Linked DNA regions of Homo sapiens: region 2 is reported to be linked to region 1. Evidence: microRNA targets listed by miRTarBase, many of them from high-throughput screens and not tested one by one. Region 1 holds a microRNA gene; the other region holds the end of a gene's coding sequence.

Region 1 (3,520 bases):
CCACTATGTAGGAATTTTAACAGTGATCTCTAAGGTAGGCTGTAATAACTGTGGCTTCCCCTATTTTAATAATGCATTGTAACAATTGTTAACAGTGATTAAGTTTCGCAAAAGCACGTGCTGAATCAGTTAAGAAAAACTTAGGATGCAAGCTGAACAAGAGACTCCAGAGAGCCTAAAAGATGATGGAACATATGCATATATAAGAATCACAAGTAACACAATGATACACAGGTCTGGCGACGATATTTCAAACGTATGCAAGCTCATGTGAGAAGCAGAAAACCAATCAAGGACACGCTTTAAGACACAAGGAGGACACGCTTTAAGACACAAGTCCTCTCCCTTAGTCTCGCCCACGCTGGGAAGCTGGTGGGGTCGTGTTTGAATAGCAAAGGTGTGCGAACAAACCAAATTAGGAAAACTGCAGAGTACCTTAGCCTTTCTAGACGCTGCAAGAGCCTTCTCTCCTCCCTGTCCAAATACTAATCCTGCCGGGAGTGAGGCCTGGAAGGAGGCCCAGGGGAAGCGGGAGAAGAGGTCTGGGCCAAGGAGAGTTCTATCTGCGAAGACTCCAGGCTCAGAGCGCTACTCACCTGTCTCCAGGGCGACGGCAGCGGCCATAACAGGCAAAGACAGCGAATCGCCACCTGCCTAACAGAGGAAAAGCCCGGAGGGGCGGGAGGAGTTCCGGAAACCACGGCTCCCTCTTGCGGTCCCGGGGCACCGAGGAATATGGGGACGGTGGCTCCGCTCATCCCCGGCCAGGCCCGCTTAGCCCGCGCTGGCTCCGGAATGGCGAGGGGGCGGTGCCGGGCTGTGGGAGCGCCTGAGGGGCAGGAGTCCAGGGAGGCAGACTTTTACCCTCAAAAGGAATGAGTCCCAGAGCCTGGCACAAGGAAGACAAGTGTGCAAAGTTGGTGGAATGAATTCGGTGGCCTAAATGTACCTTCCTCAAATGCCACGGCTGACTGGGTCTCCTCGCCCACTTCACCCTCTCTTGCAATCCAACTTGTGAGGCGTGTGTGTGTGTGTGCATGTCCGCGCTTGCCTTTAGATGGAGGTTGGCTTCCCAGCCATCCAGGCTTGCATACACGTGCATAACTCCTACCCCTACCTCGCCTGCCTGCTGTACCAGGGGTTGATTCCTTCTTCCTGCGTGTTTTCTGTCCAAATCCTTTTCTGATTTGGACAGAAAACACGCAGGTGGCACACAGTAAGCGCTTAATAAATTTTCCGGCTACCTGATCTTCTTGGAATTGAGGGCATGCTCCTGTGCGCCCCTCATTGCACAGAGCTCCCTTGTCTGGAAACTCAGCAGTCACCGGAGCCGCCGTCGGTCCTCTCGCTTTCTCTATTTTAAAAAACGTTTCAACCGCTAGCGCTGTTGGATCTCTACCTTTCAGGCTTTATCACCTGGGGTGGAGTGGGTGGTGAGAGGGAAGGGATGGGGAGTCAAGACAGGAGAACGCTCTCGATTTCCCGACCCACCTCCCGTCATATCTCATGTCATATCTACCGGGTGTTCTACCCGGTCCTGTTACTTTTTTTCTTCCGCGAAAGCCCAAATTCCCATCACTGCTCTAGCTCTCTCCCAGATCGCCAAATCCGGATGTCTGTCTCAGGGAACGTCAAAGCAACATGCCCGGATGAGGTCCTCCCCTCTCCCCACCTCCCAGCCCTCTCCTCCTGCCTCCCCCGGTGTCACCCGCGCCTCCTTCCTCTCTTCACCTCCCTCTAAACAAGAATCCGGCGCAGTCAGTTCTAGACCCTGAGCATCTCCCGCGTCCCTGCCCAATATCCGTCCCGCCCCCGATCGCCCGCGTCCTCTTGAACCTGCGGAGCCCTGCTCCCCGCACTCCACGCCCTTGCTCCGAGCTTCCGAGAAAGCGGGGCAAAGGGAGCCAGAAAGAGAGAAAATGCGCACGGAGCAGGTGGCCCCGCGACTCCATGGTGAGGGGACGGGGCACGGAAGGTGGAAAGGCGCGCTCCCTCCTCCCTTTTTTCCTCCCTATGGTGGGCAGTTGGTGACACACAGTAAACGCTCAATAAATGTTTCCGCTACTCGATCTCCTTGGAATTAAGGGGATGCTCCTGAGCGCCCCTCATTCCACACAGCTCTGGTGCCTGGAAACTGCGGTCGCCGGAGCGGTCGTCGGTCCTCCCGGTTTCTCTATTTTAAAAGCCATTTCAAACCTCCAGCGGCCTCGCCACCTCTGCTGCAGACCTTCCAAGCCCTTCTGAAGCCGGAATGATTTCTCCCTAATTCACTCCCCCTGCTTAACACATTCGAACGGCTCCCGCTTGTTCTCGGGACCAAATCCAAAGCCCCTGGCGCCACCTTCGAGAGCCTCCGGACCTGCTGACCCCCCACACCTGGGCTCTGAGCTCCAGATCCAAGATGCTGCTCGCCCTCCCTTCCCCGCCGCTCTCTTTCTGCGCGCCTTTCCCCTGCCTTCCCTTTCTGTCACTCTCCCTGGCTGAGCCCTCTCCGCCTCCAGGTCTCCGGGAAGGTTGTCCCCAGGCCGGTGGGGCCCCTGCAGGTCCTCAGCCTCGGGCGGGGTGGGGTGGAGGGGTCGCACAGCGGGAATTGCCACCAGCGCGTCCGGGCTCCACAGCGCGCTCGTCCAGGGCGCGGCAGCGCTCAGCCCAGCGCTTGGCACAGTCAGTGACCACAGGGAGGAGAAAGTGAAGGCAGGAGCGCACCTTCCCACCTGCCGTCCCCGTCCCCTCAGAACCGAGTCCTGGGGCCACCTGCTCGGCGCGGTCCCTCTCTCTCTGGCTCAGTCCCCCCACCCCGATACGTCTCCTCCTCTCAGAGGCTCCGAGGAAGGGCGTGGGCGCTGGAGGGAGCAGGGCTCAGCCGGGTGCCCCTCCCGCCAGGCCCCACCGGGGCTGAGCCTCTTCTGTCGCCCGCAGGAGACAGAACTCAAGGTGGAAGTACCGGAGTACCTGGGGCCGCTGATGTTTGTGAAACTGCGCAAACGTCACTTCCTTCAGGTTCTGCAGCTGGATCTCCGTGTAGGGCCCCGGAGCCGGGGACGAGGTCAGGTTCCCTTGTTACCGCTGGGTGGAGGTCGACGGCGTCCTGAGCCTGCCTGAAGGCACCAGTAAGCGCGGGGCTGGGGGTGTCAGGAGGCCTCTGGGGTGCGAGAGAAGCTGGGGGGATGCGCGTGTGGAGAAGAGGGCGCAGGATGGGGGTGCTGGAACCTGGAGCGCAGGGCTCTTTGGGAGTGTCGAAGGGGCTGTGGCTGCAGCTGGCACAAAGTGGCTGGAGCCTGGGGGAGGGGCGTGATGCTGAAGAGGCAGGGGTCACACAGAAGGACGGAGTGATGAGGCTCTCCTGGCAGGGGCGAGAAGAGGCGCTCACCAAAAGTCACTGGCCAAGCCCTCCTCTGGCCTTCTAGGCCGTACTGTGGGCGACGACCCTCGAGGCCTGTTCCAGAAACACCAGGAAGAGGAGCTGGAAGAGAGAAGGAAGTTGTACCGGTGAGCCCTCCTCCCCTGACCCCACGTGAGC
Region 2 (3,000 bases), not on the chromosome of region 1:
GCGCTGAGAACACCAGAGAACAGCCTCCAGCTGTGCTGTGGCAGGTGGCTTACGAGAGAGATGGAGACTCCGGGGCCTGGGAGTCACACAGGCAGAGTCCGTTAAGAGCACTTCTATTGTACTTAGAGGGTCTTCTGACTGCTAACTCAGAAGCAAAATCAAGTGGGTTTTCTGTCAATAGAAAACAGAGCCATTCTTTGAGGTTATCACCACCCAGGTCTGAGTGGCGGGGAGCTGCTGCCGCGGGTCTCTTGCTTCGGCCTGGTAGAGAGGCTGTAAGCCAGAGCTAGAAGTCAGATGCTCTTCTTTGCTTTCCTTCTGTGTACTCCAATGAGAAGGTCACATTGGAGAATACTGATGAGTGCTAAAAATATTTATTAATAACATGATTCGTTGAGAGATTTGGTCATCAGGAAATAGCTACTGTACATGGTCACAGTGTCTTGGAAAGAGTGTTAAGTATGGATTCTGTCTTGCAAGATTTTTTTGGCACTTTATATTTTTCACTGAAGACTGAGCACTAAAGGTGCTGGCAACAATGACACCTAAACTATGAAAAAAAAAATCACTGTTTGCCATCATTGCGGTGATAAGCATAAAAATTTAAGTACGTGTTTCTTGTATATTAAGACTCCAAATGCCCAAATGCTTAGATGAATACATACAGGAATATTTAAAATAAATTTAAATATAGCCATAACAGAGGATTTTGAAAACAAAATCACAGAGTCTAACATATTGTACCTTACGTGTGCTTGGTTTCAATTAGAGTAAGGCACTCGCTGAAGGATGTACTGACCCATGCTGTCAGCTACAACAGGCATGCATCATTATTGGCTTAATTAAAGTTTTAGTACTGATTAAAACGTTTTATTATTGTATTATCCTAAACGGCAGTGGTCTCCAATCTTATTAAGGGATACAGAAAAGATATAATTCAGGAGTTTCAGTTGCATAATTTAATAACCCAGCTACTGTCAATTTTTTATTTAAACAAGTTTTGATAAAAGCTGAGTCTGCTTGTGTCCAACATGACAGTGTAAAAGACTTTTTGAATGCTGCTTTATAAGTAGCAACTGAATATAAAATCATTTGAAAATGTGATGCAGCCATCTTGATGCCTATGGTAATTTACTTCAATACAACTGCAAGGAGAAATGCTTAAATCATTTCCACCTGGCAAGAACAGGGGAGAAAGTTAATTCCATTAGCCATCTTGATTTAATTAAATGCATACTATGTTCTTACTGGCAACTTTTACATGTCCTCATCATTAGAAATTAATTATATAAGCGATTATCAAAAAAATTTTGAGCAGGTACATATACTCTTCTTTGTTGTTTACAAATAAGCATGACTTAGAGGCACTTGGTTACCTTTTAATAAGGAAAAGAATTACACTACCAGGGCCTTCCCAGTAAGATTGGAGACCACAAGTCAAACTTGGTATGAAAATGCTGTCTGAAAATGCTGTCTGCTAAAAATACTGTATTAGTGAACTAGTTAAGATAGAACATTTAAAAAATATTCAGACTTTGCAAGATTCTAGGCTGTAAAAAATACAAAGGCTAAAAACACAAAAAGTTTACAAAATTTTGCAAACCCAATAAATTGAAATGAGTAAGAAATAAAGCAAAACTATTACTGCAGGAGAGGTTAAAGAGTATCAGTAAGTTTTAAAATAATAACACTAAAATGTAATAAATTCTACTTGGCTACATATATTTCTGCCCCTTTAAGGACTTACGATATGGAACTTGTAACACTTTTCTGTGCCCAGCATTAAAACACATGTGTGCACATGCACACACACAGACACACACAATACATGACACATACTGCTGAAGTACTCCACATTACATTTCAGACAGAGTGTAACAAAATGTTTGATACAAAGCCTTAACATGATTTTTTTTGTTAATGTTGACAGCATGACAACTGGAAAATATTATAACATTTTAAGGTAAAACAGGACACTAAAGTGCTTTTTAAAAAGCTACCAATTGGTCTTCACCAGTGAAATCATATTAAATAAGTCGATCATCATCTCTAGTTGATTCAATCATAGCTGTCTTAAGTCACCTGAAAATTAAACGTATTTCAAATCCTGAGCAGGTGCTCATCTTCCAACATGTTATGTGCCTATCCAGGTATCCATGGAACACACATCATTCTCTCCAACAACATAATTCTAGGTCACTCTTAGAAAGTTGTTAACATTTAGGCTAAAGAACATTAATGAGAAAGATAGACACACAACGAAAAAGACTTCTGCTTGTAGAAGATGCTTTCAAAGATGGCAACACTTGTGTAAACATCTGTAGAACTTACTCATATCACAGCTTGAAGGTTTGGGCTACCTACTTACATAGGAAACGTCATCTATTGAGTTTCATCATGATGCAGTTTCTCCGTATCAAAAATAGACACTGGGCAGAAATCTGCGCTACTTGTTTCTGGACAGCTTGTAAACGTGGAAGGTTTTGTTCTGGAACACTCTGGTGAAGTAGGCCACGTAGGGAGGCAGGTTTCTTTTGATCTCTTCACAGAAGCGAGGGTGGTCTGCAGGTTTCAAATCAGGATCATTCTCTCCTGGGCCATCCATCATCTAAAACCAAAACAAACCCAAATACAATTTGGGGGGAAAATTCTATTTACAAAAGACAGTAGGAGCAGGAATGGGTATTGGGTTTAAGAATGGTATGTGAGTGAAATTAAATTATATTATTTCAATGTCCATGGGCACCTGGAGATCATCAGGGCCATCCTTTTCCCCCTTCAGAAGTGCAGACCAAGGCTGAGAAGGAGAGTGCAGCGTCACACGATGATCCCATTAACGGGAAAGCCAGAACTAGAACTCAGGTCTGCTTGCTCTCAGGAACATACTATACTGTCTCTCTCATAGAAATGAAATACAGAGAACTACAGTGATCAGAGAAAGCTCTCTAACTCATCAGAAAAAGTCACATTTAGGCCAGGCGTGGTGGCTCATGCCTGAAA

What was found. Region 1 holds the annotated microRNA hsa-miR-4520-3p (UUGGACAGAAAACACGCAGGAA, at 1,153-1,174, opposite strand). A microRNA usually pairs through its seed, bases 2 to 8, with sites in the 3' UTR of a target mRNA and lowers its output. Matches are read on the target gene's strand: a 7mer-m8 pairs with bases 2 to 8, a 7mer-A1 pairs with bases 2 to 7 and ends in A, and an 8mer does both.
Region 2: the mRNA of DPY19L3 is a reported target of hsa-miR-4520-3p. The part of its 3' UTR that is shown has no 7-base or 8-base seed match.

Annotation. Positions count from the first base shown.
Region 1 is chr17:6,654,295-6,657,814 of GRCh38, forward strand. MIR4520-1 (microRNA 4520-1) reads right to left here and starts at 1,215; the gene lies at 1,146-1,215. MIR4520-2 (microRNA 4520-2) reads left to right here and starts at 1,155; the gene lies at 1,155-1,208. It also overlaps the pseudogene ALOX15P1. RefSeq lists enhancers at 813-1,385, 2,663-3,299, 3,074-3,123.
Region 2 is chr19:32,481,687-32,484,686 of GRCh38, reverse strand. It overlaps DPY19L3 (dpy-19 like C-mannosyltransferase 3), which reads right to left. Exons shown (of 19, transcript NM_001172774.2): 19 at 1-2,608. The coding sequence ends at 2,447. Among named protein-coding and RNA genes, the nearest start is that of DPY19L3, 77 kb to the right of the region's middle.